2 separate regions of the Homo sapiens genome follow, and region 1 is linked to region 2. A link means that fine-mapping ties the variant in region 2 to the expression of a gene that starts in the linked region. Tissue or cell type: whole blood. Region 2 holds a variant in brackets; the other region holds the start of a gene. Each region is shown on its reference strand, or each on the opposite one. Region 1 holds the start of CORO1B (coronin 1B). Region 2 overlaps IKZF1 (IKAROS family zinc finger 1).

Region 1 (4,526 bases), not on the chromosome of region 2:
TGCTGGGAATACAGTAGGAAGATAGGCAAAGTCCTTCCCCTCAATTTGCTGACATCCTGGTGGAGGCCGACACAAACCAAATACACCAATAAGCACCTGATGCAACATCAGGCGGCGCTGGAGAACACAGGCCGGGTGGTGGCTCACACCTGTAATCCCAGAGTTTTGGGAGGCTGAGGCAGGAGGATTTTTTGAGGCCAGGAGTTTGGAACCAGCCTGGACAACATAGGAGACCTCCATCTCTACAAAAATAAAAATTAGCTAGGCATGGTGGTACGTGCCTGTAGTCCCAGCTACTTGGGAGGCTGAGGCGGGAGGACTGAGCCCCAGAGTGTGAGGCGGTAGTGAGCTAGGACCGTGCCACTGCACTCCAGCCTGGGCAACTGAGCAAGACCCTGTCTCCCAAAAAAAGAACAATGCAGTCAGGACAAGTAAGACCAAAGAGTGGCTGGGTGAGGAATGGTCCAGGAGAGCCCTAGGAGGAGGTGATGTCTGACCAGAGACCTGAATCGAGTGGGGAAAGGAGCCTTTTTGGGATCTGAGGAAAGAGCTTCCAGATGGAGAGAACAGGATGTGCCCAGGCCTCGGGGTGGGAAGGAAGGTGGGTGGGATCTAGATGATCCTTCTAGCCCCAGGGTTTATAGAGCACTAGGAAAAGCAAGGGCTTTGGACCCAAGCCGATGGGGATTGCATCCGGCTGGATGACCTCAGGCAGGCACCGCACCTCTCTGTGCCTGTTTCCTCAATGGGGTGTGGCAATGGGAATGAGATGGGAGACAAGCCCGAGGTCACCCTCAGACACACAGTGGGGGCCTCTTTTAGCCAGAGACAAGGCTCCTGTGACCTCTGCTCTTCCCCCGCTTCGTCCTCCATCCATCTCTTTCTGGGAAAGGGAGGGTGCCATCGGTCAGCCAGGGCAGTGGATGCTCAAGGAAAGAATAAGGGAAGTAGCCGGTGCCCCAGAGCCGCTGGCCTAAGGGAACGGGGGTACATTCCACCTGTGGAACGGGATGGGGTGGGTCTGGAGAGGCCAGTCTGGGCTCCTTGTCACAGGCGCTGGCTAGAGAAAGAGAGAGGCCTGTGAATGGATCTCCAGGCCTTCGAGGGAGATGGTGGAGAAAAGAAGGCAAGGTGCAAGGGACTCACTGGCCATGGCCCCCTTTCAAATTGTAATAAGAAAGCTCAGCAGAATGCACAGGTGTTTACCCTGAAAAATGGGACTCCTGGGTCTTCCACTCGCTCCATAAACACTGCTATTTTCTGGATGGGCACGGTGGCTCACAACTGTAATCCCAGCACTCTGGGAGGCTAAGGCAGGAGGATTGCTTGAGCCCGGGAGTTCAAGAGCAGCCTGGCCAACATGGTGAAACCCTATCTCTACTAAAAATACAAAAAAAATAGCAGGGTATGGTAGCAGGCACCTGTAATCCCAGCGAATTGGGAGGCTGAGGCAGGAGAATTGCTTGAACACGGGAGGCAGAAGTTGCAGTGAGCCGAGATCGCGCCATTGCACTATAGGCTGGGAGACAGAGCGAGACTCCATCTCAAAACAAAACAAAAAACACACCAGCCTGGGCGACAGAGCAAGAGACCCCATCTCTACAAAAAGTAAAAGAAAAATTAGCCAGGCGTGGTGGTGTGTGTCTGTAGTCCCAGCTACTTGGGAGGCTGAGGCAGGAGGATCCCTTGAGCCTAGGAGGTCGAGCCTGTAGTGAGCCATGATCATGGCACTACATTCTAGCCCGGTAGTGACAGACCTTGCCTCAAAAAAAAAAAAAAAAACCACCCCAACACCTGCTGTTGTTTTCTTTACATTGTTAACCAAGAGCATGAAATTTAGGCCGGGCATGGTGTCTCACGCCTGTAATCCCAGCACTTTGGGAGGCCGAGGCGGGCGGATCACGAGGTCGGGAAATCGAGACCATCCTGGCTAACATGGTGAAACCCCGTCTCTACTAAACATACAAAAAATTAGCCGGGCGTGGTAGTATAAGCCTGTAGTCCCAGCTACTGGGGTGAATTTCTTGAACCTGGGAGGGCGGAGGTTGCAGTGGGCCGAGATCGCGCCACTGCACTCCAGCCTGGGTGACAAAAACTCCGTCTCAAAAAAAAAAAAAAAAAAAAAAAAAGAGCATTAACTTTGATAACTTAAAAAGAGTCACGTGAACATATCCACTGTCCGTGTAGATTCTACATTTATTTGTTGGGGGCGGTAATGGGGCCCCTTGGAGGTGTGCGTTCCGTCGGGGGCCGGGAAGGCGGGGCCTCACCCAATCCTGGAGACTCCTGCGGATGCCATTATGAGGAGCAAGAACGCGAAGGGGCCTCGGGTCCGCTGTAAGGCTGCACCCGCACCTGCGGCGCCTCTGCGGCGGCCGCCGTCGGCCCTGCCCCGCCCCGCCCCCTTCTTCCGGAGGAGCTGCGGTGGGGGCGCTCCACCGGGTCCTAGGAAAGGGGCTCTCTCTGGCCCCGTCCCCGGCGGCCCCGCTCCCGGCCCCCCGGCGCCGCTCAGCCTCCCGCCCAGCCCCTCCGCGCGTGACCTCGGCCCCGCCCCCGCGAGCCCCTGCCCCGCCCCCGCTCCGGGTCCCTCTGTCACTTCCTGAATCCTGCTTCCTGCTTCCCAGAGGCCGGGATCCGGAGCCGCCCGAAGCCGGTGCCGCAGCCCCCTGCGCCCCCGGTGCCCCCGGTGAGCGCGGCAGGGCCGGGGCTAGGGGCGCGGGCTGGGGGCTGGGCGGGGCTGCAGGGGCCGGGCTGAGGGGGCTGAGGGGGGATCGCGGGTCCCAGGAGCCTTTCGCCTCCCCTCTACCCCACTCAGTCCCACTCCCCTTGGCCGCCCAGCCTCTCCTCTCCTGGGCGGAGGTCCCTGGAAGTTGGGCTCCTGGTTCACCCTGGACCCCGATTCGAGGCCGCTCTGGGTTGCTTCGCGGCCCACAGCTGCGTCCCGACCCCGTCCCTTCCTGGGGGCCATGCCGGGGCTCCCTGGACATTCCCTGGGACTCAGAACTGGGCACTCACTCGGCCCCACAGTAGAGAGACTTTTCCTGCTTCCTCTCTCCTTCTTCCCCATTACCTAGCCTCCAAATCTCTGGGAGCAGGAAGGAGGCTGCTCCCGACTGGCTGGGACCTACAGTAGAGCTGAGAGCTCTCCAACCCCGGCACCTCCCACCTCCTGCCCCCGACACACACCAGAGCCAGGGAGGGGCCCTGCGTCCTGCAAAGCCCCTCAGGACTCAGCAGTGGTCAGGGCCGGAGCATTTACCTCTCAGATCACTGCCTGCGGGGTGACAGGCGGCCAGGCTCTGCACCTGTGACCCCATTCTGTAACTGGGTAAACCGAGACCCAGGAGGGTTACGGTGGCCTGGCCCCCGGTTGCATCCTCCCGGCTCACCTTCAGCAGCCTGGGGAGGGCTGGAGTTGTTGGGATGGGCCGGACTGACCCAGGCCTCTCTGTCCCGCAGACATGTCCTTCCGCAAAGTGGTCCGGCAGAGCAAATTCCGGCATGTGTTCGGGCAGCCGGTCAAGAACGACCAGTGCTATGAGGACATTCGCGTGTCCCGTGTTACCTGGGACAGCACCTTCTGCGCCGTCAACCCCAAGTTCCTGGCGGTGATTGTGGAGGCCAGTGGAGGGGGTGCCTTTCTGGTGCTCCCCCTAAGCAAGGTGGGTCCTGTCAGGGTTGGGGGAAGAGGAGGCACCTCGGCCACCCCTACTGGGCCTTTCTGCACACCTTGAATCCCTCATCTTGCCGTTTCTCACACTGCTGGGCAGGTGTTATAACCCAGATTTATCGCCCCAAGTGTTAGCACAGATGGAAAGTAGCCTGTTGCCATAGAGGCAGGGTTAGAGGCAGCAAACATTTCCTGCTCACCTGGCAAGTGGGGCACAGTCACATCTGGGCCACCTGTGAGCCGGGACGTGCATGTCATTCCCACTCCATGGAGGGGAAGACCAAGGCTTCGGGAGGGATGGAGCCCACTGACTGCCCCCTCGTGCCCACAGACGGGCCGCATTGACAAGGCCTACCCGACGGTGTGTGGGCACACGGGACCTGTCCTGGACATCGACTGGTGTCCTCACAACGACGAAGTCATAGCCAGCGGCTCGGAGGACTGCACGGTCATGGTGAGGCACAGGACTGGCTGGGCCAGGGTCGTGGGTGTGGCCGAAGGGGGCCAGCAATAGGACCAGCAGAGGACTGAGCTCGGTGGCCCTGTCCCTACCACAGGTGTGGCAGATCCCAGAGAACGGGCTGACCTCCCCGCTGACAGAGCCGGTGGTGGTACTGGAGGGGCACACCAAGCGAGTGGGCATCATCGCCTGGCACCCCACGGCCCGAAACGTGCTGCTCAGTGCAGGTCTGCACCGCCCCCCGTTTTGTGCTCCCCCCCCCCACGGACCCCTCCATACATCCCAGCAGCCCCTCCAGGGCCCACATGACAAATGGGAAAGCTGAGGCCCTCAGAGTTGGAGAGACCCGTCTGTCCCAGGGTGGTGGGCAGAGTGGGCCTCAGCCTGGTGAGCTAA
Region 2 (4,000 bases):
CCACACATCCCATACACATATACAGACCACACACACACTACACATCTCACACACATATACACACTACATATGCACACCACACATCCCATACACATATACACAGCACACACATACACTACACATCCCATTCATATACACACACCACACACATACACACCCCATATACATATACACAGCATACACATATACACTACACATACACACACACACCACACACATACATGCACACACAAACATATGACACACACAACATACAACTACATGCATAAACATACCACATGTACATAGATACAAACACACACATGCCACACACATACATATACATACATCACACACCACATATACCCCCCACATATATACAGACACCTGCACACACACAACACATGTACCACATGCACATATACACAAACACACACACATCAATTTCAGTTTTCCAAGGAAAGTTATTAAACTTCTGCTGCCTGATCTCACCGGTCTATTCCAAAACCTAGTACAAGATGTTATCTGATATAGCACAAAAGTCACTTACTTTAATCTAAAATCAAAACTGTCATGAAGTTCTGTGGAAGACATCATGATCCCTAAACATTTTGAACTATTTGACAAATTAGCAGACATAAAAATCCTACCCAAAACGAATCTGGAAGACTGTAAATTAAAATTTACTTTGAAATGCGAAGCAATGAACCTGTTACATGATGGCCTCTCTTATCAAACATGGAAAAGCTTAGAGGTGGGCAGATCATTTTGTAATACTATATTTCATGTTTGGGAAATTTGAAAAAGGGGAGGCTTTCCAACCGGGATCATCTGGGTTTGGATATGTTCATGCTGACAATACCTGCTGTCTTCACGAGGCATTCCAAGATAGTGGTAGTAAATTGCAAGATGAATAACATAGAATTTTCAAAATTTGCTCCATGGACCACTGAACAATAATTCAACTATGAAGGGGGAAAGGAACTAAAAAAGCAAGGTGAACAAGAATCCAAATAATATGCTTTCAGTTATTCCTCAAAGAAGAAAGAAAAGAAAACTTGAAAACCAGTACTCCAGCCACTTGAAGTTCGGCAAACAGTTCTCGGCTTGAGACTTCTCTCACATTTGAACATGCTTGAGTTCAGCTGCAGCTAATGCTCAGATGCTGCTAGATAATATTTCTCCCCAGCTAAAATGGGGTTTATCGGTTCAGAAGAGATGCATTTCGCAGATAAAAACAACTTCCTCTAGCTGCTGATTAGATAAGCAGGCTCCGCATCCGTGCTCAAAAGCCTGCTGCCCAATCTCCAGAGCGGCTGCTTTCTTTCCATGGTGAAAGCTGTCCCCAGCACCGCTCCTTCCCTCCCAGAGTGTAGAGGACTGTTACCACCATTTGTCTACCCACCCCCCTCCCCCGACTACCGTGCTGGTCTTCTGCCTGAAACTGTAAAATGAAGGGGAGATTTGGCACCAGAATAGCCAATTTAAAATATGGTAATCCTCTTACAATTCCCACTGCAGTCTTAGAACTCATGGCTGAGTAAAGAAATTTTTACTTCAATTGAATGAATAAAAAAGATTTATGCTTTTACACACTCAATCATTTGTTCTGGAGTCCAGAGGGAAAATACCTAGATTTCTTTTCTACTTTTTTTTTTTTCAATTAGGCTAGGGTAAATCAAATTCTGTTCAAACTATTCAACATGAAGGACCTAAGTTGTGCTGATTCAGTTTCTATCTCTCAGTGCTGCCAGGGAGCCTAGAGCCTATGCCTCTGAACACCACACTGTGAGATGCAAGCTGAAATAAACCACTCATGAAACCATGGCGATCCCCTCCCAACTTCAGGAGTTGGCTGCTCCAGTGCACAGAGCCAGAGAAGCACATTCTGGAATGTACCAGGGCATATAGAAATATACCTTATCTCCCTATATTCAAACTCATGTGTCCTCCCGCCTGAATAACTACTGCCTGAGGTTGTCCCGATTATCAAGCCAGGTAGCAAGTCATTTAGTAAGCCCTGTCCCAGGCCCATATGGGCCTCAATCCTTTGGCCTTCCACGGATTCAACCAACCCATCTCCACTTACATCAATCATGGTCCCAGTTCAGTCCTACAGCATTCCTGTGCCTCTGCCCTGGGTTTTTTCTTCAATTCTACTCTAAGCCCTAAATTTGCTTGTCCTCTTTCTCAGGGGTGGCCATCCCGTTTTCTAGCCTGCAATCTTTCTTCTCTGTCCTCTGGTCTTTTGCTCCTCTGTTCC[A/G]CCCACCCAAACGCCTCCCCTGCTGCCTGATTTCATGGGGGAGGAATGCCCTTACTCACACCTCCAGACCTGTGGGCTTGTCAATAGAATCCTAGTGGCTGAGGACTCTTGGTTAATTTAGGACACGGAAATGTGTACAAGAGAGAAGTCAGTAACTGGCAAAAATGTATGTATAAAGGAGGAGGAAAAAAATGCAAGGATTACTGAATACGGGAAGAAAATAACTAAGTTTTTACTTTTCTCACACAAAACACTTATCTGCTCTCCAGACCCCAACCCTGACATAATTCCTAAACAAAAAACTTTTAAGAGCCCCTGCTCAAGAGTTTTCAGAACAAGTCTCAATTCATTTTTTTACTTCTCTAGCATGTGTGCCATGGCTGACTGAGTAAATCTGGGGTTGCCTGAAGAGGTCACTGAGTGCATCCTCGGCTTTAAACAGTTTCATACACAACCACTTCAGAGAGGTGAGAGTTCTCTAGTTTTTAAAAAGACCACTTCAGAAGAACAAGCTACAGTCTCACTAAATAGACCATTCTGATGACTAAACTCTCCTTGCCAAAAGGAGAGTAAAGACCACATCTCTCCTTTAAGTCTAACTTAAATTCTTCAAGCAACACTTTAAATCCTTTGTTTCATTTTCTTCAGACCGGGAAGAAAATGGAGGCCAACTGAGGGCTGCAGGGCTGCTCTGCCCTCTGGCTCTGTCTCCTTCTCCCCAAACTTACACACAAACCTAGAATGTTCCTTCCACACTGAATGAAGCAATGAGGTGTGAAACCATTATTTGTTTATTCTGGGAGTGACTCACCAATCAGTATAACTTTGCACCCTCCTCATAGGGAACTGATTTCCACCATTCCCATCAATTTGTTTATTAATATGGTCTGTTATCCTTGTTGAGATTAGATTTGTCTAAAACTGAAGGATGCCAGTGGTCATAACAGCTCACAGCTTTCCAAAAGTGTTCCTTGTCACTTTCTAAAGCAGACACTCTTGCAATCTATTATTAGCAAATAATTTCCCACTTTTTTTTTTTTTTTGCATCTTTTAGCTTCTCACCATTTCTCCTTGAAATTTCAACAGTGGCAGCTCGACTTGAACTTGAGTCAGGTGGCGGCCAGCACCCTTACTCTGTCCTTTAGTCTTGCCCTATTCTAACAAATTCTTCCTTTCTCTTTTGGCTGTTTTCAGTTTGTTTATTCTTTGGACCATTTTTTTTAAAGTAAGAAATCCCTCTTCTATCCTTGGTGCTGGTCATCTGTTCTCTCCCTTTTCCCAAGTGAAGCTACGATAGCTTCATTTACCCTTCTTGTAAATCTTTGAAAGTTCTATTTTGCACAAGTTGCATTTCTTTTTTCTGTCCTTTTTACTTTGTGTCTTTGCTACTCTGTCTTCAACAAATTATGTCTATATATGTTCCATCTAACCCTCAAGGCCATTCTGTGATGCAGGTTCAGTTACTATTGCCACCTTCAAAAGAGGAAAGTGAGGCTCAGAGAAGAAAAGCCTTGCCAGAAGCTCCAGGCCAGGGAGGAGAGGGCCTGGACCTGTCCCTTCTGAGGTGTGCCTTACCCACAGGGCACTCTCCGCCCCTGCTGCTCACCCTGCATTTCAGCAACTCCATTTCCTCCTCTCGGCCCCACTGCTTCTGTCTTTTCATTTCCTGCTGTGCACTCCTTACAGTCCTTTGCACTGATGACTTATTCCCATGGAATAATGTGATGAAATATGGTACCCAGGTTATTCCCTTTATCC

What was found. PIP is the estimated chance that this variant, and not a neighbour inherited with it, causes the effect. A credible set is the group of variants that fine-mapping cannot tell apart.
Region 1: CORO1B starts here. The variant in region 2 is the best candidate, but not a certain one, in a credible set for the expression of CORO1B in whole blood (TOPMed, PIP 0.56).

Annotation. Positions count from the first base shown.
Region 1 is chr11:67,441,564-67,446,089 of GRCh38, reverse strand. It overlaps CORO1B (coronin 1B), which reads left to right and starts at 2,614. Exons shown (of 11, transcript NM_020441.3): 1 at 2,614-2,686; 2 at 3,460-3,662; 3 at 4,002-4,124; 4 at 4,228-4,357. The coding sequence starts at 3,462. RefSeq lists enhancers at 2,119-2,218, 1,879-2,718, 3,559-4,398 and silencers at 2,349-2,608, 2,649-2,698.
Region 2 is chr7:50,330,724-50,334,723 of GRCh38, reverse strand. All of the region lies in intron 3 of IKZF1 (IKAROS family zinc finger 1), which reads right to left. Among named protein-coding and RNA genes, the nearest start is that of IKZF1, 28 kb to the right of the region's middle. The variant A/G (reference allele first, on the strand shown) is at 2,243.